Homo sapiens: one gene and its partners. The protein of the gene in region 3 purifies or fractionates together with the protein of the main gene of each other region. This does not show direct contact. Each region holds a gene or a part of one and is shown on either strand. Other genes may lie near its edges. The genes, in order: HK1, NNT, POR, SQOR and BCKDHB.

Region 1 (3,500 bases), on a different chromosome or scaffold from region 3:
CTCGGCCTCCCAAAGTGCTGGGATTACAGGCATGAGCCACCACACCAGGCCAAGAAAAGTAATTTATAATAAAATTATAAGATTTCACTATGCAAATGCCCAGGGTCTGCTATTCCAGAGGAAAAAAAATCCTCAAAAATGGCCAAAATGTCCCCTAGGGTCCCTACCACCCCCATCACAATCCACCAGCCAGGCGACCTCTGAAGGGTGGGCGCTGGCAGGGAAGACACTGCCCACTCACCTCTCGATCTGAGAGAGAAACTTGGTCTCAAAGATGCCCCGGGTCTTCAGCGTCTCAGAGATCTGCCCTCGGAAGAGGAATCCCTTCTTGGTGAAGTCGATTAAGATGTTGCGGACGATTTCACCCAGGTACATACCACTGATCATCTTCTCATACCTGAGACAGGAGGAGGGGCCTGGGGTGTCTATGGGAAGTGGCCAGGAGAACTGTCACCCCTCGGTCTCACGGTCACTCCGCGTCTCCTACTGCCCCTCAAGCGCATCATCAACAGCCATGTGCCCAGCCCTGTGCTCTGCCGCAGAGGCAGAGTGGGAGGACCAGGAAGGACCAGGGAGTCCTCCACTCTCTCACATCAGAAACAAAACCACCAGCATTCATGTCTACCTGCTAGACTGGTCTCCCTCCTCAGCTGCCTGATAGCTCTCAGCCCCAAGGTCACTTCCCCGAGAGCCTGTCCTCCTCCTGATCCTGGGTTCTACCTGCCTGTTTCAGGTTCCCACACACCTCACCATTCTCCTCCTTCACAACACACCTGAGCTCACTGCCTCCCACCACCACTGCTGTAGTGACAGCCCCAAGAGGACAGGGCATGTGTGTCTTTTTCAGCTCTGAGTCCCCAGGGCACAGCACAGCATAGCATAGCACTGGGCCCTCAGGAAAGTGCCCAAAAACTATCTGCAGAATAAGCAAATGACTGGGCTAAGTCTTAAAGGAACAAGAAGACAAAAAAAAGGAAAGTTTCTAGATTTTTCTAAAGGTTTTGCAAATACCCAGAGTACTGGTCAAGCCCACAGCAGAGTGATGAGGCCACACAGGAGGGAGAATTCAGTGACCACAACACACTGGAGGTCAACCTGTTCTTGGGACTTCAAATTTCCTGCCCTCTCCATGCTCAAGGATCTCAAGAAATAACAAAGGATTGATTCATTTCCATGGCACATGCCCAAGCCCAGTGTCCCAAAGCTGAGAAGAGTCCCCTGGAATTTGGAACTCCAGGATTCCTCCTATTTCATGTGGTCCATGGAAGAACATGAAACAGAATGGAATCACAGAGGGGTGGGCCACCACTACGAAGTCCCACCCAGTCCTTCTCATTCCACCACAAAGACCACCCCAGTTTGGTGCTGACATGTCCTTAACCCCTTCCAACACTTGCTGATCCCCCCGCTTTTTAACCAAGGGGGTCTTACTATTATTGTTGTTATTATTGTTATTAATTTTTAGTAGAGACAGGGTCTCAACCCTATGTTGCCCAGGGTGGTCTCAACCTCCTGAGCTCAAGCAATCCTCCCACCTTGGCCTCCCAAAGTGCTGGGATTACTTTGATGATAGACTGCACTCAGCCCAAAGGGGGTCTTAGTTCAGGTCATTTGGTAGGCGACAGCATCAGCTAGACTTGAATAGCACGGTTCTTCACTATACTCATTTTTTAGTTACCATCTCTTTATGGTACTATTGGTTCTTCCTCTTTTTCCTCCTTCATTAAATGTCAGTAAAGACCTTAAAGGCCACTGGGCACGGTGGCTCACGCCTATAATCCCAGCACTTTGGGAGGCTGAGGCGGGCCAATCACCTGAGGTCAGGAGTTCGAGACCAGTCTGACCAACATGGTGAAACCTGGTCTCTACCAAAAATACAAAAACTAGCTGGGCGTGGTGCCGTGCACCTGTAATCCCAGCTACCTGGGAGGCTGAGGCAGGAGAATCACTTGAACCCAGGAGGTGGCAGTGAGCTGAGCTCGCACCACTGCACTCTAGCCTGGACAACAGGGTGAGACTCTGTCTCAAAAAAAAAAGAAAAGAAAAGAAAAGAAAAAGACTATAAGGGCTGGTTGCGGTGGCTCACACCTGTAATCCCAGCACTTTAGGAGACCTAGACAGGCGGATCACCTGAGGTCGGGAGTTCAAGACCAGCCTGACCAACATGGAGAAACCCCGTCTCTACTAAAAATACAAAATTAGCTGGGCATGGTTGTGTATGCCTGTAATCCCAGCTACTGGGGAGGCTGAGGCAGGAGAACTGCTTGAACCCGGGAGGTGGAGGTTGTGGTGAGCCGAGATCACGCCATTGCACTCCAGCCTGGGCAACAAGAGCAAAACTCCACCTCAAACAAAAAGAAAAACAAAAAACTGTAAGCTGATTCGAAGAAAAGCACTAAGTAAATAACAGCATGGGTGGTATTTAGAAAAGGCAAAAACCTTGAGGGGGCTAGGGAGTGACTCATGCTGGGTGCTGCTCCAGCCCTTCTTTCTGCTCCTAGGGAGACAACTTGGACCAACTCATCCTGGCCGTGGCAGAGGATGGCCTGATTCCTGGGGGCTTGAGACAAAGGGCAGACACTGCCATTTCAGACATGGTACCTGAGACCTGAGCTGCAAAGCTCCACAAGGCCACTAGGTGGTGCAGGAGGCTCACGGAGGAAAGGACGATTGCGACAGGGCCTCTGCTTCACACCAACCTGCCGCCCAGCCACCCTCACCCCACCCCCTTGTTATTCTGATGGGAAAGGAACACAGCAAGGGGACCGGAAGGCCAGAATCCTCCAGGCTAAAAAACAGTCACAGGCAGCCCCTAGACAGGCATCAACCCTGGGCCATCTTGTACCATGTTGGGGGTCTGTCCTCCCTGGTTCTCTGCTGTCCAAAAGACAAAGGTCAGGAGTGAGCCAGGGGGTCCAGTCTTGAAACCTCTGTTCAGACCTCTCCTCCTAGAAACTTCTTCCACTGCAAGTGGCAGAATGCAGCCAAGTGCTGCCCCCACCCTGACTGTGAGTGTCCTCTCCACCAGGCGGGGTTACCTTTGTTTCCCAGCATTTAGGGAATATTCGTCCACCAGTCTGTCGTAGTGTGTCCTGATATCATCCAGACACCCGTTGTCCCCAAAGGCCCCCCACTCCATGTTGATGCACATCTGCCCCTGGTCCCCCTCCACCATCTCCACGTTCTTCATCTCCTCCATGTAGCAGGCATTGCTGCCGGTCCCTGGAACACACGAGGGGGCAATGAGGAGCGGTGGCCTTGCATTTGGGGGTCTTGCAACTGGGCCTGGGGTCTGGGGCCTGAGGTTCCACAGGCAGGGGGCACGTTTTTTGTGATGAACAAAGTAATAGTTTTTCTTTCCCAATTTTGAAATGGAAAAATTTGAAATGTAAATGGAGAGTCTGAGCCACATCACCCAGAGGGCACCTGCTTAGCTGACTTTCAACCAAGAGCCAATGTGTTCACCCGTCCAGGCAGGGTTATGTTTATTTTAATAGAAG
Region 2 (3,500 bases), on a different chromosome or scaffold from region 3:
CATGTTGCTCAGTGAGCTCAAAGAGGTACTATGTTTTTTATTTCCTTTGGTTTGCTAAGGTGGCTTTCTGGTGACTCAGAGAATGCTGGACATGTTCAAGCGTCCCACTGACCCCCCAGAATACAACTACCTGTACCTGCTCCCTGCCGGCACCTTTGTTGGTGGATATTTAGCTGCCCTCTACAGTGGTTATAACATTGAACAGGTAAGATGCTCTTTGTAAGTTTTTATATTTACCACAATATTTTCTTCTCTATTAGATTTAACATTGTTAGTTATCCTAATTCAAAGTATCGAGCAAATACAACTCTGTCAAGCAAATACAACAATAACCCTAGAAACATCTTGGTCAAACTGAGCATTCTCTTCCCCTAAGGATCAGGACCCTGGATTCTAGAGACAGATTTTTCTGGTAACTGAGTTTAAATATGGGTTTATGTCTTTGTTTTGATACATTTTTCCACATGTAAGAGGAGTTAAGGTTATCAGTATCTTCATTATGTATCTAGCTAGATTGCGGTGGATTTATAATGAAACAATACAAAATTTGAAAAATTATTATTAAGTACTATTAGTTCTTTTCCTATTCTTCCTCTACAAATCCAGCACATCATCTCTTGCTACTAAGAGATGTTATATATTCATAAAAAAATCCATAAAGAAAAGGATAGTTTAAACTTAATGTTGTATAGAAAAACAGAAATAATCCAGCTGGACTTTGAAAGTTCCAACTTGTAATATAACAGACCTTCAGCTTTGTTCTGAACTCTGTATTTTCTATTTCTTTTCAATGGCTGTCTTTTAGTTTCTTCTATGTTTCCAACCTGCAGTATTTATTGAATGAACAATTTTTTTTTTTTTTTTGAGAAGAGTTGGAGCAGTGAGTCAGAAAGACCTTAGTCTGAATTCCAGATTTCCAATTTATTGATCATTTGCCTTGGAGAAAATATGCAACTTCTTTAAGCTTTGATTCTGTCTTTTGCAAAATGAGGATAATGATTTTTCCCTCTTGTGGATCTCATGACACTGTGACAACACAAATAAAACATGTGGCAAAGCCCCTGGCACTTACCTCAGGGGTTGGCTCTTTTACAGCATTTGGTCAGGTTTAGTATTTTTAGATCCAGTAATGACTCCATTTAAATTTAGGTACTTTTATGTGTATTTGTGCATGATAGCAAATCCAGAAAAAATCAATTTATATAAATGGTATAAGTGCAAATACAATATAAGTATTTAATATGTTAATATTCCTAATTGGCAGGAAAATATATTGAAATCTCTAAGCTAATAGACCAAAGGTTTTAATAATCTCTCTCTCACTTTTCCTTTGAAAAGATCATGTACCTAGGCTCGGGTTTGTGCTGTGTCGGTGCCTTGGCTGGCCTCTCCACCCAGGGAACAGCACGTCTTGGCAATGCACTGGGCATGATTGGGGTTGCTGGAGGACTGGCAGCCACCCTCGGAGTCCTAAAACCGGGCCCAGAATTACTAGCTCAGATGTCTGGAGCGATGGCTTTGGGTGGTACCATTGGTAAGCACTTGTGGGCTTCTGCCTTCATGTGAACTCCAGTTTCTCAATATATATTTCTAAGGTCCATATTGATGAAATAATTAAATTTTGTTCATGGAAGTTGCTTCAGTTAATATTATTTTGGTGAAAATTCATTCCAGTTGGTGTAATTCTCATTCAAATACATTTTAGAACACTGAATAAATGCATCAACTGAGTCAAAATATCCTATACTCAATTCTTATCTTCCTTTACTGACTGTGTCCCGTTAGCTGATAATGGAATGGGGGATTGGAATCCTTATGTATGTACTATACATAAGCTAACTTTTGTTCTGCTGGGTATAAATAACAGCCAAAGATTCTGCTTCATAGACCTGTTAAAAATGAAAAAAAAAAAAAAAAACATGTGCCAGCAGAAAAACTACTGTTTTAATTTTATTCAGTTGTTTGCTGGATTGTTAAATTTTCAGGAATTTTTAGGCTGGGCATGGTGGCTCAGACTGTAATCCCAGCACTTTGGGAGGCTGATGTGGGTGGATCACTTGAGGCCAGGAGTTTGAAACTGGCCTGGCCAACATGGTGAAACCCCGTCGCTATTAAATATACAAAAATTAGTTGGGCATGGTGGCGTACAACTGTAATCCCAGCTTCTTGGGTGGCTGAAGCATGATAATCGCTTGAACCTGGGATGTGGAGGTTGCAGTGAGCTGTGATCATGCTGCTGCACTCCAGCCTGGGTGACAAAGCGAGACTCTGTCTCAAAAAAAAAAAAAAAATTTTTTTTCCAGGAATTTTTAAAGTTGATTGTTAAACACAGCCATTATTAAATACTAAATTACATAAACTTAAATGAATCAGAAACAAAGTTAATAATATTAAAAACTCGTAACTTTCTAATTAATTTACTAGGTTTTATTGTCTATGCTCTTGAGGTTACTTATGTCTATTGTATGTGTATAGAAGAAATACTATGTATCAGTGGGCTGTGGTACATCTCTTTCCAATTCTACATTCAATGACATCACATTGGTAGATTGAAATTTGACTTGGTAGCAGTATTGCAGTGTGGAAATAAGCAAACGCTACAAATCTGGGCTTGATTTATTGTTTTGTTTATTGTCCAGACGTGAGAAAGTGATGGAGAAAATGTTAATGATGCAGCTTAAACTTGAGATGTTTTGACTGTAGCTGTGACATTGTGAATAGCACAAATAATTGAGCAAATAATCTTCCAGTATTTGAAAACTATTATCAGATTCAGCAATAAAGTCATTCATATGGTTGATAAATGAGTGAAGTTCTCGCATACATTCTGTTGTTTTACTTTCGTCTTACTTATTAAAGCAAATAAAAATATCAAACAATGTTCCTGTTGGAAGTATGCTTGTTCATCAGTTGCAAACACTAGGTTGGCTACAGATGTAAGAGTTTAGCAAAGATCCATAAAAACATTCTTTGAAAGTCAATTTGTCTACATGGAATTTTCAGTAAAGAGCACTATTTCTTATTATTTGAAAATTGTGTGCTAGCCACCTTTATATCAGTTAAAGCTCATGTATTTGTATGTGCATGTATTTTTTTCCCCTGGAACTGGTTATTAAATGTTTCCCAGTGGAACACTGGCTTTAGGCCTCCTTTTATACTTCCTCAGGAAAGCTTTGACTCTTTTCTTGATAATCTCTGGGGAAAGGGACTTGAAGGAAAATGTTTGCTCTGTAGGTTCATGGCAGGAAAACCTTTAGACATGATCTTAGCAAATATTCTGAGCCCCACTCCTTCTGTATCACCTACCTATAGCCATGCAGTTCCTTCAGAGGCTCCTAATTTGGGTATTTACTGCCCAGATTTTTGCATTTCTTTACCTTGGGACTTTGCTCCCACCTACCCACCTGAAAACCAAGGTCTTCTTCATGTTCCAGGTGTTTCTTATGTGCTCAGGAGAAAGCACTGGCTATAGAGAAGAGGGCCTGGGTTGCAATGGGGAG
Region 3 (4,790 bases):
TTGAGTACTACTACGCTTTTTTATCAAAAGTACTATTCCACACCAGCAATGCCCCGTGTACCAGCCCTGGACAGGATGGGCTGGATTCCAGCTGATCTGCCCTTCCTATATCGGGCCCTCTGCTCTAAAGTCCTTTCAGCTTCAGGGTGTGGCTCTACCTTTAAGAACCTGCCCAACACCCCTCCTGCAGGACTTGGTCTGATCCCCACACCAATTCCTTCTCTCTTAGAGCTGGCGGAGCCTGTCTCTCCAGCCTGTGCCCTGGGCACATCCCATAACCTCTCTGAGAGCAGAAATGAGGCAACCCACGCTACCTAACGCACGGCGCTGTTGCAAGGAGGCCCTGATTAGACAATGTAGGTTAAAGCAGTTCACAAAGCATTTCTAAAAAGTACGCTGTGGCCGGGTGTGGTGGCTCACGCCTATAATCCCAGCACTATGGGAGGCAGAGGCAGGCAGCTCACCTGAGGTCGGGAGTTTGAGACCAGCCTGGCCAACATGGTGAAACCCCGTCTCTACTAAAAATACAAAAATTAGCCAGGCGTGGTAGCATGTGCCTGTAGTCCCAGGCACTCGGGAGACTGAGGCACGAGAATCGCCTGAACCCGGGAGGCGGAGGTTGCAGTGAGCCGAGATTGCACCACTGCACTCCAGCCTGAGTGACAAGAGCAAAAGTCTGTCTCAAAAAAAAAAAAACTATGTTGCAACACCCTCATTTTCCAGCTTAACATAAATGCTGGCTCTGTGGTCCTGATCGTGCCCGTCATAGTGCCTGGCACGAAATACGATCAACGCAAACACTACACAGCTCCTATCCCTCAGGGGCAGTGCTAGGTGAGTTTATAGACTCTTCCTCATTTAAGACAAAAGCCCCACAAGATTGGGAATACTGCCTCCATTTAGCAGGTGAGGAAACTGAGGCAGAATGAGGTTAAGGTCTCGCCCAGGGTTCACTCACCACTAGAGCGTAAGCTTGATGAAGACAGCATTCATCTATTTTCTTCACTGCTGCAGCCACACACCTTAGCATAGTGTCTGGGACACTGTAGGTAGGGCCTCAGGAAATGTTTGCTCAGTGAGTCAATGATGGAGATAAGATTGAACCCAGTTTTGTTTTGTTTTGTTTTGTTTTTGAGACGGACTCTGTCTCCCAGGCTGGAATGCAGTGGCGCATTCTTGGCTCACTGCAACCTCTGCCTCCTGGGTTCAAGCGATTCTTCTGCCTCAGCTTCCCTAGTAGCTGAAATTACAGGCATGCACCACCACGCCCAGCTAGTTTTTGTATTTTCGGTAGAGACGGGGTTTCGCCATGTTGGCCAGGCTGGTCTCGAACTCCTGACCTCAAGTGATTTCTCCCGCCTCGGCCTCCCAAAGTGGTGGAATTACAGACGTGAGCCGCTGTGCCTGGCCCTGAACCCAGTTTTTAAAAATGTAAAACTAATTCCCTGTCCATGGTATAAGAACTGTGTTGTGTGAATATCTGCTTTACGGTGTGAAGGCTGTAAGTGTTCTGGCGGGGAAGGCTGATACCCAGATTGGAATAGGGAATCGGGATTTGATGTGAGCGGCATGCTTCACCATGCCCAGCCTTGGAGAATGACTTTTCTGTGTGGCTTGTTCCTGCCAAGACAGCCACAGCCTTGGACTGGAACTGACATGACAGATGGCCCCCACTGGTGTCAGCACCAGCCCAGGGTGGCCCTGGGGTGCAAGCTAAGGCTGCAGCTGGGACTGGGTCCCCTGAAGACAGACAGAATGAAAGGGGTTCTGGTCTGAGAATGGCTCCCAATCCTGCCCCTGAGACCTGCCCCTTGCCAAATCCAGGGAGTCCCTGAAGGCAGCAGGCCCGTGCCCCTGGAGTTCCCTCGGCTCAGACCTGACCTGGCAGGTCCCCACTCAAACCTGGCTGCGGGCCCCTGGAGTCTGAGACTGGTGTTAAACACAGCCAAGCGTAACCGCAGGAAGTAATTCTGGCCGCAGGACCCTAAAATCTGGAGAATGACTTTTCCGTGTGGCTTATGGAAATCAATCTTGGAGAGACAGGGATGCAGTCACTTAGGCAGACCTTCGGTATCATTTTTTTCTGTCTACATACCATCTATACTATTATTTCCTTAACGTTTTTCTTTTAACTAATCCATCTTTTTCACTTATTCTTAAAAGGAAGCTTCATGAAAAGTTTAAAAGAGCAACAAAATAAGGCCTGTCCAAAGATTTTGTGCTCATTAGCACATAGCCTTCCAGGTGGCTACAGCCTTAAAAAGACTTTAAAATGCCAATTCTAGGCTGGGTACAGTGGCTCACGCCTGTAATCCCGACACTCTGGGAGACCAAGGTGTGCGGATTGCTTGAGTCCAGGTGTTCGAGACCAGCCCGGGACATGGCAAATCCCTGTCTCTATAAAAAAATACAAAAATTGACTGGGCGCAACGGCTCACACCTGTAATCCCAGCACTTTGGGAGGCCGAGGTGGGCGGATCACTTGAGGTCAGGAGTTTGAGACCAGCCTGGCCAACATGGTGAGACCCTGTCTCTACTAAAAATACAAAAAATAGCCAGGCGTGGTGGCGGGCACCTGTAATCCAAGCTACTCAGGAGGCTGAGGCAGAAGAATTGCTTGAGCCTGGGAGGCAGAGGTTGCAGTGAGCCGAGATCGCACCGCTGTACTCCAGACTGGTTGAAAGAACAAGATTCTGCTTCAAAAAAAAAAAAAAAAAAATTAGCTGGGCATAGTGGTGCACACCTTTAGTCCCAGCTACTCGGGAGGCTGAGGTGGGAAGACTGCCTGAGCCTGGGAGGTGGAGATTACAGTGAACCTTGATCGTGCCACCGCCATTGCACTCCAGCCTGGGCAATACAGTGAGACCATGTCTCCAAATAAATAAATAAATAAATAAATGGAAAAAAGGGTTCCAGCTCTAGCGCTGCTATTGCTGGCTAATGACCCTGGCAGGCCCGTTAACATTCTTGAGCCCCCGGTTCTTAATCTGTAAACTGGTGTCATTTTCGCAGTGCTTCCTGTGAAGGTCATATAAACAGCAGATAGAAAAGGGCCTTATAAACCCCACATAAGAGATGATTAAGGGAGAGCTCAAGCACAATCTAGCAAGAAGGCAAAACCCAAGAGTCACCCCAAAATGCTACAAGGAGCCTTGCTTCTTTCAGCCTGAGGCCCGCATGCAGGACACTGCTTGGAGTGGTGACAGAAGAGGGACAGAGAGAGGAGGCTGAGAGGCGGCACTTACAATGTCTGAATTTTGGTGAACTCGGGGACTTCTTCTTTTTTCTTTCTGAAGAGGAACCAGTAGGTTAGGAGACCCACGATGAGCGAAAACAGAATCATGTCCGTCATGCTGAAAAGAGATACTTCTTCGGCCACCGCCTCGGACACGGTGGAGCTGGTGTCCACGTGGGAGTCTCCCATGTTGATCATGAAACTGTTAGGAGACAGAAACAGCAGATGTCAGCAGAGGGTAGCAGGGTGCCCCTGAGGCTGGCTGGGGTGCCCACCTAAATGCTGGGCCTTGCCCCTGGGGCTGCAGGAAATGGTCACTGCACGGGGTAGGAGAAGGGGCTCACTCAGCCAGGTTCCTGCCAAGACAGCCACAGTCTTGGACTGGGGCTGACATAACAGACAGCCCCCAGTGGTGTCAGCACCAGCCCAGGGTGGTCCTGGGGTGCAAGCTAAGGCAGCAGCTGGGACTGGGTCCCTGGAAGACAGAGAAAATGACAGCCACTGACTCTCAGTGTGCTGGAACATCCTCTAATCCCACAAGGACACCGCACGGGGGGCAGGCGGGAGGAAGTGCACGCAAGAGTGGACCATTTCGCAGCAAACCCTTTCCCCAGCTGTGTGGCTGGCGGGGGTTGCCCTAAACCCTGCATGTTCCAAGTCTCCAGGCCTGGCCCTTGAGTGGCTCCTGATATTCACGAGCCTTGGACTATCCTGACTGGCAAGAGTGTCTCTGTATTCCTAAAACCTTGGGCTATGAAGGTAGTTCCTGTTAACAATGAGATTTATGGTGAATGCCTGCTTTCCTATGCCTGGGAGTCTTTTTTTTTTTTTTTTAAGAGACAAAGTCTGGTCCCTCCCCCTCCCCCTCCCCCTCCCTCTTTCCACGGTCTCCCTCTGATGCCCAGCCGAAGCTGGACTGTACTGCTGCCATCTCGGCTCACTGCAACCTCCCTGCCTGATTCTCCTGCCTCAGCCTGCCGAGTGCCTGCGATTGCAGGCGCGCGCCGCCACGCCTGACTGGTTCTCGTATTTTTTTGGTGGAAACGGGGTTTCGCTGTGTTGGCCGGGCTGGTCTCCAGCTCCTAACCGCGAGTGATCCTCCAGCCTCGGCCTCCCGAGGTGCCGGGATTGCAGACGGAGTCTCGTTCCCTCAGTGCTCAATGGTGCCCAGGCTGGAGTGCAGTGGCTTGATCTCGGCTCGCTACAACCACCTCCCAGCCGCCTGCCTTGGCCTCCCAAAGAGCCGAGATTGCAGCCTCTGCCCGGCCGCCACCCCGTCTGGGAAGTGAGGAGCGTCTCTGCCTGGCTGCCCATCGTCTGGGATGTTAGGAGCCCCTCTGCCTGGCTGCCCAGTCTGGAAAGTGAGGAGCGTCTCTGCCCGGCCGCCATCCCATCTAGGAAGTGAGGAGCGCCTCTTCTCCACCGCCATCCCATCTAGGAAGTGAGGAGCGTCTCTGCCTGGCCGCCCATCGTCTGAGATGTGGGGAGCGCCTCTGCCCCGCCGCCCCGTCTGGGATGTGAGGAGCGCCTCTGCCCGGCCGCGACCCCATCTGGG
Region 4 (4,790 bases), on a different chromosome or scaffold from region 3:
TGAGCTCAGGAGTTCGAGACCAGCCTGGGTAACGTAGTCAAACCCCTCTCTACCAAAAACACAAAAAATTATCTAGGCATAGTAGCACATGCCTGTTGTCCCAGCTCCTCAGGAGATTGAGGTAGGAGGATGGCTTGCTTGAGGCTGGGAGGTGGGGGTTGCAGTGAGCCAAGATGGCACCACTGCACTCCAGCCTGGGTGACAGAGCAAGATCCTGCCTCCAAAAGAAAAAAAGAAATAAAAAGAAATTAACATTGGGCCAGGTGTGGTGGCTCACACCTGTAATCCCAACACTTTGGGAGGCCAAGGTGGGCAGATCACTTGAGCCCAGGAGTTTGAGGCCAGCCTGAGCAACACAGCAAAACCCAGTCTTTAAAAAAATACAAAAATTACCCGGGCATGGTAGTGCATGCCTATAGACCCAGCTACTCAGGAGGCTGAGGTAGGAGGATTGCCTGAGCCTGGGAAGTAGAGGCTGCAGTGAGCCATGAGCCACGGTTGTACCACTGCACTCCAACCTAGGTAACAGAGTGAGACCCTGTCTACAAAAAAAAAGAAAGAAAGAAAAAAACAAACAAACAAACACTGGCACTTAGTTGTAGCTTGTTCATTATCTATCATTTATTTCTGTAACTGTATAGGATAAATAACTTGGTCCTCCTTCATTAACATACATAGTCCAATCAGTGTGGTGGTTTTCAAACTTTAATGTTTATTAGCAGCATTGGGGAGACTTGTGGAAAATACAGGTTCCCAGGCTACACCATGCCAAGATCCCAATCTAGTAGATCTGGGTAAAGCACGGGAATCTGTACTTTAAAATCTGCTAGTGATTCTGATATGTAAAATCTGTGGATCACATGCTTACAATCTCTGGCTTGAAGGAACAGGTTCATTTACAAAGAAAAATAGAATGCTATTATTTGGACAAGTCACTTCATCTCTTTGGTCTTTAGTTTGCTTATCCATAAAGAAATGCACTAGACTAGACAATCTCCAAAGTGTCTTCTAGTTCCTCCGCCTCCCAGGTTCAAGCAATTCTCTGCCTCAGCCTCCCAAGTAGCTGGGATTACAGGCTCCTGCCACCATGCCCGGCTAATTTTTGTATTTTCAGTAGATACAGGTTTCACCATCTTGGCCAGGCAGGTCTCAAACTCCTGACTTCGTGATCCACCCGCCTCGGCCTCCCAAAGTGCTGGGATTATAGACTTGAGCCACCACGTCCGGCCCAATTCTTCACACCAGTTGTTTTCAATCCTGGTTGAACATTAGTCATTAGGGGAATTTTTGAAACTCCCCATCCTCAATCTGCACCCCAAACCAATTAATTAAAACCTCTTATAAAGAGGCCAGGCATCAGCACATTTTAAAAGCTCCCTAATATGTAGCCAGGGTTAAGAGCCACAGCTTTACATCCTTCTGGTGGATTTTTTGAAATTCAGATTTTAAGAGTGGAACTAAATATCTGACCTGAAATCCTATAATTCAAAGGGGACACAAATATCTTCTTTAATTACAAACCCCTTAGAAGAATAATAACCATTCATTTATCCACACCCCTACCTACAACCTCAGCTATCCAGAGGACAGCTGGGAAACGAAGTACTAACAAAGTTAAGTTCATGCACTCAAGTTCATACACTTTGCTCATAAAAGGATGCTTCGGGCTCTTACTCATAGCTCATTTTAGTGAAAGCCCAACTTGGGCTCACTCAAACGGACTCTCTCAAATGGGCTCTTTTGTAAAGTAAAAATGAGTTCACTCATATGAGCTCTCACTCATAGCCCATTTGAGTGAGGCCATTTGAGGAGCAGCAATTTAAAAAAGCTAAAGCTGGAGGGACCTCCCAAAGTCACTAACAACGGCCTGACAGCCAGGAAAAAGGAAAACTACAAAAAGGACACACAAAAAACAAACAGCAGTAATTTGAGACCCTTTTATAAAGTGATAACTAGCTCCAAACATTCCAGTAGCCTCTGTGTGCATAACTACACAGGAGCTATTCAAAATGATGACCCTGAGCTGCTGCAGATAGATACTAGATGAGCCTGGGACAACCTGTGACACCAGAAAGTAAAGGAAGTGCTCAAACACATGATGGGGCATGTCACAGGGACACAAGAGCCAGCTGGAAGGGAAATCTACTGACCAAATCCAAAACAATTTGAGCACCATAATAATTAAAAACAATAATGAATGATAACACTGTAAGAAAAAATATAGGAACTCATGAGTTCATACCAATAGTTAATTAACTAAGAAGCAAAGACTCTCGCTGAAAGAATGCCAAGAGCTTACTGGTAAATGTGCAGGAAATGTCACAGTTAGCAAATCACCATTTTGCAACCACCATAGTAAAGATTTGATTAGGCAAGGATCATCAATGGATGCTAACTCTAGTGGGGAGACTTGAATGAGTAGACTATTTACATGGTTTTAAAGTGTCTTCCCACAGACTTCTTATTAGTAGCAAGGGAGAAAACAAATTGTAATTATCCCCTGGAAAAACTGGACCACATCTTGACTGCTGATCAAAATTAACATCACCAATGAAGGGCAGATGAACACTGTATGCTTGCAAATGTGATACCTTAGAATGGCACAATGCTTATGCAATGTTCCAGTCTAACAAACAGAGCCTGAGGCCAGGTGCGATGGCTCATGCCTGTAATCCCAGCACTTCAGGAGGCCGAGCAGGTGGATGGCTTGAGGTCAGCAGTTCGAGACCAGCCTGGCCAACATGGTGAAACCTCGCCGCTACTAAAAATAAAAAATAAAAAAATTAGCCGGGCATGGTGGTGCACACCTGTAGTCCCAGCTACTCATGAAGCTGAGGCAAGAGAATCGCTTGAACCTGGGAAGCAGAGGCTGCAGTGAGCTGAGATTGCACCACTGCACTCCAGCCTGGGTAACACAGCGAGACTTCGTCTCAAAAATAAATAAATAAATAAATACATATCAAAGCCTGAAACTAATCACAAGAAAACACTGACAAACTCAAAATGAGGAACATTCTACTGAAAGAAAAGTGGTGGGGGAGAGGGCTGTATTATTTCAAAATATCAACGTCATAGAAGACAAAGAAAAGCTATAGAAACATCACAGATTAAAGGAGGCTAAATAGACCTCACAATTGAATGTAATACCTGACTGTAGCCTGAGTCCTGCACTGGAGGAAAAAATGCTACAAACACAGTTGGGCCAATCAACTAAATTGGAATACAAATAGTAAGTTAAAAAATTGTATCTGTGCTAAATTTCCTGAGTTGATAATGGTACTGTGGTTATGTAAGAGAACACTTCTATTTTAGAAAATTAACACTAAAGTATTTGGGGCTAAAGAGAGCTGATGCATGATATATGTAAATTTCCTTGGAAAAACTAGATATGGATGGATAGATAGATAGACAAAGGCAGATAGAAGAAAGAGAGAAAGAAAGAAAGGAAAGAAGGAAGGAAGGAAGGAAGGAAGAAATCAAATGATAAAGCTAAAGCAAATGGTAAAATTCTACAAGTGAATCTAGGTAAAAGCTACATACAATTTTCTTTGTACTATTTTTATTTTGTAACTTCTCTAAGTTTGAGATTATTTCTTTTTTTTTTTTTTTTTAGACGGAGTCTCACTCTGTCACCCAGGCTGGAGTGCAGTGGTACAATCTCGGCTCACTGCAGCCTCCGCCTTCTGGGTTCCAGCGATTCTCCTGCCTCAGCCTCCCGGGTAGCTGGGATTACAGGGATGTGCCACCACGCCCAGCTAATTTTTGTATTTTTAGTAGAGATGGGGCTTCACCATGTTGGCCAGCCTGGTCTCGAACTCCTGACCTCAAGTGATCCACCTGCCTTGGCCTTCCAAAGTGCTGGGATTACAGGCGTGAGCCACCATGCCCAGCCAATCCCTGTTTTCTTCAACTACCCACAGGGTTACTTCCTGCTCACAAGCAGGACTGTTTCTCACATGCCACCAATTGAGACAATCACCAGATCTTGCATTCGAGGAAGCCCTCCCTTACCTCTACACAGTAACCAAAGTTGTGGAATATTTTTGGCTACCTCAAGTGACTCGATGCCAGGAAAAGTTGAGTCAAAGGAATAGGACAAAAATTCACTTGGCACCAGCTAACGACACCTTCTCACCTCCCACTGACACAGCCTCTTACATCTTTCTCTTCCCCAACCATTTTGGCCTACCTTCTTGCCCTAACACTTCCCTAAGATGCTCATTTCACCCAGTCTTCCCCAGCACACAATGATGGCAGATAGGGTGGTGTGAGCCCCCATGTATCTATGGCACGTTTCAGCAGACAACGCTTCATGCTGACAGCTTAGCCTCACCACTCACTGAAATCACTTGGGTCTCTCCTGGTTTGTCCAGGTTCTCAAATACAGCCTCTTGTTTATCGGCTCGGACTTCAATGAGGTTTTTCTTGTAGTTAACAGTGAGGTTCCGCTCCTGGATGATCTCCTGCAGGGCATCTGCATACTTCTTAACCCCGAAAATGGCTCCAAGAGAAGTGTTGAAAATGATATTGGCCTTGGATCGCTTCCCTGTCTGAGAAAAATAAGAAAACCATTCACACCAAAGCATGACTGCAGCTGCCTTTTTTTTTTTTAATCCAGACAAGAATTAAAACCCTCAGCAGGGACCTTGCTAGCTTTTGCCACCATTATGTCCTGGCAGAGCAATGGGTAGACCAATCCACTGCCTCCTCCTTATGTTCTGCCCATGACATACAACTAAGTACACACTTGAGTTGGGGGCTGAGGTGGGCACTGTCCAGCTGAAGGCCAG
Region 5 (4,790 bases), on a different chromosome or scaffold from region 3:
AACACAGTGATGCAAAAGCAAACTGCTATCGATGTAAATATAAACAACTTCACCCTTCTTTCTGCCCCTAACTCTACTCTCTTTGCTTCCACGGTTGCCAAAATGAAGTATTAGTATACTTGTGCTTTACAATAAGCTGCTACAAATGCTTTTTGAATGTTTAAGGTATTATTTATATATATATAGATAGATACGTAAATAAAGTTCTAAAAGTGCTTGCCCTGACCATATGTGAATGCCCTCCGCACTGCGCCATCATAAAACATCATATCCCCATACAAAAGCACCATCTACACTAAAAATACAAACCCCAGGATAAGTGGTGGATATATGTTGCAAACAAGAAGACAACTCTAGTTTAACTATAATTTGGAACGTCTGGCTATTTGAAAGAAAACCCGGTGTCTGACTTGATTTGAAAATGCCTGCAAAAAGCGTTATTTTCATGAAGCTATGAATAACTCAATCTGAAATATTGCTCTTAATTACAGCAACTACAAATAGAATGGCTCGGGATCATTTGTAAGCATGTCAAGTGTTTAGATGGTGTCAAGTGAGTCTTCACAAACATTTACTATAACAAATCTTACATCTTCTACTAAATTATAAAACACTCTTCACCTAAAAACATCCTAGGCTATACTTTTACAGTAGTATCTGCAGGTTATTTTCATGTAACTAACCCAAGAAAGAGCCTGTAAAAGCTATGAAAATGCCAAAGCTCTTAAAAGTGGTAAATATAAAATGCCCTATACTATAGCAGTATATCAAGAAAAAATAATACATGTCATTGTTTCCTACAATTTTACATGTAATTGTACATCTATCTATTAATCGTACATATATCTATTGTACTTATCTATTAAGACTAGGTACATATAATTTACATGTAGCTAGACTTAATTGATAAGACTATTACAAACAGAGTGCTTAACCTTCTTTGTATCAATATGAAAATAGATGCTTCTTAAATTATCTTGGCATTGGTGTGAAAGATACTGGATATAAAGAGGTAAATGAGAGCTAAACTATATTCTTAAGAGGGAACTGGCTATGTAAATCTTAATAGTAAAAACAAGACCAATGTAATCAGGCCAAAGGTCATGAGGCTACTTAGATAGAAACTGTAAATTAGAGGAGCCAGAATCTCCACATAACCCTTAGACTGTAATCCACAGTATTAAGACTATATACAGAGTTATGTTTTTAAAAAATCCATCCCCATTACTTTTGGAGAGAAGATAAATGAAAATTCAGCCAAATCACTTAATTTACCTGACTAAATTAAACCTAGCTTACTGAACCATAACTAATAAGAAGTCAAAAACACAGGTGCCTTCGGCATCCTTGATATGCTCTATGACTCACACAATTCAACCCAAGGTGACTGCATAAAGGACCCCATTTTGTAATATTTTAAACAAAGGAAACTACAGGAGGAAAAATAAATTCTATAGTGATTTGTTTCCTTGAGCATGAAGCTGTTTATACAACTTTCTTTCATGCTGCAAATTTAAAAGTTTTAAATCAATTGAAAATGCTCACATAGCTCACAATTTCAAAAGAATTATTTGCAAATATACAACATATTTGGCCAAAGGTTTCAGGGAAATGACATTCTATCACCATTATATTCATACCTTACAAATTGTGTCCACATCCCAAGGTATTATAGTCCTCAGATCAATGACTTCACAAGACACTCCAAGCTTTTCTTTTGCCATGGAAGCTACCTCTCGGATCACATGAACCTGAAATAAAGAGAAAAATATGCAGAGAATGACTACAAAGGTTCTAGCCTCAAAAACTAGTTGAATGCTGATGTCACTATTAGAGACAGTATTTAAAGTCTCAGGAACTGATCTGCATGGAGAATTTATAAATTTGTTTTAAATATGTTGAAGCCCATATTCTGCGAAAATAACAAGTATAGATGTCTAGAAAACAGATGGAAAGAGGTGCTTAGAGAGAGAAGTCAGTACCACAGATACTGATTACAAAGATGGCATGTAGAAGGTAAATGAAGTCATACAAATACGTAGAAAGCATGTAGAGGGAGAAGTAAAGGGTAAAAATCACCAACATTTAAGGAAAAAATGGACCAAGAGGAGAGGAAGGAAGAAAGAGAGGGAGGGAGGGAGGGAAAAATGGAGGGAAGGAAAGAAAAAAAGGAGATAAAAAGAACGGTTAAAGAGCTAGAAAGAAAACCAGGAGACAGTGTATTGCAGAAACTTAAGAGGAAAAGATTTCATAGGGATAGCAGCCAGTATCACATACCATAGCAGGAATAAGAGCTGAATTTAAACAACTAGAAGATCAGTAATGTTGACAAAAACAGTAAATTAGTGGGAATAGAACTCACAGCTACAAAAATATAATGAATTTAAGAAATTAAATACAGACACTAGAAAACAGTTGTTCAAGTTCAGTGTTAAAAGGAGGGAGACATAATCGTATTTAAGGAGAAAGGAATCTTTAAATAGTGAAGAGAAACATACTTTTTAAATAAGAGCAACAAGAAATGGAAAACTGAAGATGCAGGAGAGAGATGGACTAGCTAATAGACTACAGTCCTGGAGAAGGTAAAATGGAACGCAGTCTGAAACTGATTTGCAGAGGTTGCTAAGTAAACCAGACACCTCTTCTTCAAGACAAAGGGAAGAAGGAAAGAATTAGAAGCAAGAGGAAGAGCAAGTTATCTGAATTAATACCTAATACACTCTAACCTCCCTATTAAAAAGAGAAGTAAGGTCATGAGCTGACCACAGAGATGTGGATCAAAAAGTGGACAGAAGGATAGCAAAAAGGTTTGCCACACCCACCAAGGACAATATCAATGGGATACAACTCGCCAAGCAGCAGAGTTACCCCACTGAAGGTGAGAAACCATAAGGACTCTAGCTCTCCATGCCAAAAATCAAAAGGAAAGGAGAGTAGGAGCTTGTGATATTGAAAACTATTTTTGTTATCTTCTTTATATTGCATTGCCCTAAATTTCCTAAAATAAGGATTTCCTTTATACAGAAAAATTAAAACTGACCATATCTGTAAAAGAAGGAGAGAGAAAAGTAGAAGAGATAGGAGTTCGTGGCCAGAGAAAAAGTTGGGAGGTAGAGCAAAGTGACAGCAAGTCGGGGGGAAAATGAAGTGGATCAGCAGAGAGGGTCACTGGAAAAAAAGGAAGATATGGAATTTTGAGGCTTGACCAGTGGATGGGTCCACGTGAGCAGCAAAGTAATGATGAGAGATGGCAGGAAATGTGATGAAAAAGATTATAGCCATTTGCAGCGAAAGTAACATGGGTATACATGTATTCCAAAAGATATGTGTTTCTAATTAATACATTGTTGTAATATATTTATGGCCACCACATGCATATACATTTTAATATATATAGACACCTCACCTTCACTCAGAAATCCGTACCACAGACTTTCAGTTATAAGATGAGGAAGTTCTCAGGATCTAATATACAGCAGTGACTAGGGAAAATAATAGATCTGAAGTGTCCTCGCCCCCACCCCCACACACAAAATAGTAACTATGTGTGGTGATGGATCCATTAATTAATTTGATTATGGCAATCATTTCACAATGTATGCATATATCAAATCATCACATATATACCTTGAAGATATATAATTTCATTTGTCAATTACACACCAATAAAGTTGAGGGAAAAAAGAAATTAGCATCAGTAGCACCAGACTTAATCTGAGATATAAAGAAAACATCGTTTTCAATTTTTCATGTATCAGGATTTAAAATGAGAGCTTCCAAGCACAACGTAGGTTTTAACAGTTGGGATCAATGCTACTCACCTGAGTGCCCCAGGCAACTAGAGTAACATCACTCCCTTCCTGTATGACTTCGGCCTGGGACAGTGGGATGTTGTATGGTTCTATAGGGACTTCTTCCGCTAAATACAGAACAGGAAAAAAAAAAAAGGACATTTTTTCTGAGGTGACACTTGTGCATAAAATAATTTAAGAAGCTCACTGTAGCAAAGCTTTATTTTATTTTTTGTTTCTCTAAATTCTGTATTACTTAAAACAGAAATAGCATTTATGATATGGCTCCATGACATTACTGCACAGATGAATAAATGCAATATAAATGTATAAAACATATCAGCTATCTTGGAACAAAAAAATAAACTTTAGAAACTAAAGAAATCGTAATAAAGAAGGAACATTAGTCAATAAGAATGTATCAATATTGGTTTATTAACTATAATAATTGTATCCTACATGTATGTAAGATGTTAATAAGGCAAACCCTGTGTGTGGTATCTAAGAACTTTGTACTATGTTCATACTTTTTCTGTAAATCTAAAATTGTTCTTAAAAATTGTTATTACATGTGATAAAACTTTATTAAACTGAATTAAGTTCTCAGATCAATTTTCTAGAAAGTAGCAAATTTATGGGGGTTTGGAAAAAATAGTAGGGCCAAAAATTTTAAAGTAGATTGTATTTTTTCACCTTAGATCTATGAACACTTCATCAATCAGAGTCACTGACAACACCTTACTTTTCAAAGCTGAATACTGTAGACCTCAAAAAGATAAACTAAATCAGCTCTACCAAGCCAAAAGGAAGCCACTGGTATCTGAGAGAAAACCATTTTATGAACTTCTCTGCCCAACCAAGTTATATAGAGATGACTGAATCTGGGAGAAAATTATAAACTGAATTTCAAAATAAAATTGAGTACGAAGTTGATAAAACTGCCCAGTTATGCTGAGAAGCCTTCTTTAGTTCTTTTTTTTTTTTTTTTTTTTTTTTTTG

What was found.
Region 1: the proteins of POR (region 3) and HK1 fractionate together in Homo sapiens (co-fractionation; one large-scale study listed by BioGRID). This does not show direct contact.
Region 2: the proteins of POR (region 3) and NNT fractionate together in Homo sapiens (co-fractionation; one large-scale study listed by BioGRID). This does not show direct contact.
Region 4: the proteins of POR (region 3) and SQOR fractionate together in Homo sapiens (co-fractionation; one large-scale study listed by BioGRID). This does not show direct contact.
Region 5: the proteins of POR (region 3) and BCKDHB fractionate together in Homo sapiens (co-fractionation; one large-scale study listed by BioGRID). This does not show direct contact.

What each region holds. Positions count from the first base shown.
Region 1 is NC_000010.11:69,391,847-69,395,346, reverse strand, and holds part of HK1 (hexokinase-1), read right to left. Parts: intron 3,223-3,500; coding exon 3,039-3,222; intron 398-3,038; coding exon 242-397; intron 1-241. UniProt on the Homo sapiens protein: Catalyzes the phosphorylation of various hexoses, such as D-glucose, D-glucosamine, D-fructose, D-mannose and 2-deoxy-D-glucose, to hexose 6-phosphate (D-glucose 6-phosphate, D-glucosamine 6-phosphate, D-fructose 6-phosphate, D-mannose 6-phosphate and 2-deoxy-D-glucose 6-phosphate, respectively).
Region 2 is NC_000005.10:43,651,680-43,655,179, forward strand, and holds part of NNT (NAD(P) transhydrogenase, mitochondrial), read left to right. Parts: intron 1-59; coding exon 60-205; intron 206-1,338; coding exon 1,339-1,534; intron 1,535-3,500. UniProt on the Homo sapiens protein: The transhydrogenation between NADH and NADP is coupled to respiration and ATP hydrolysis and functions as a proton pump across the membrane. May play a role in reactive oxygen species (ROS) detoxification in the adrenal gland.
Region 3 is NC_000007.14:75,952,636-75,957,425, reverse strand, and holds part of POR (NADPH--cytochrome P450 reductase), read right to left. Parts: intron 3,438-4,790; 5' UTR 3,425-3,437; coding exon 3,246-3,424; intron 519-3,245; coding exon of another isoform or gene 465-518; intron 1-464. UniProt on the Homo sapiens protein: This enzyme is required for electron transfer from NADP to cytochrome P450 in microsomes. It can also provide electron transfer to heme oxygenase and cytochrome B5.
Region 4 is NC_000015.10:45,675,861-45,680,650, reverse strand, and holds part of SQOR (sulfide:quinone oxidoreductase, mitochondrial), read right to left. Parts: intron 4,551-4,790; coding exon 4,341-4,550; intron 1-4,340. UniProt on the Homo sapiens protein: Catalyzes the oxidation of hydrogen sulfide with the help of a quinone, such as ubiquinone-10, giving rise to thiosulfate and ultimately to sulfane (molecular sulfur) atoms.
Region 5 is NC_000006.12:80,200,063-80,204,852, reverse strand, and holds part of BCKDHB (2-oxoisovalerate dehydrogenase subunit beta, mitochondrial isoform 1 precursor), read right to left. Parts: intron 3,920-4,790; coding exon 3,822-3,919; intron 1,752-3,821; coding exon 1,641-1,751; coding exon of another isoform or gene 1,635-1,640; exon of another isoform or gene 1-1,634. UniProt on the Homo sapiens protein: Together with BCKDHA forms the heterotetrameric E1 subunit of the mitochondrial branched-chain alpha-ketoacid dehydrogenase (BCKD) complex.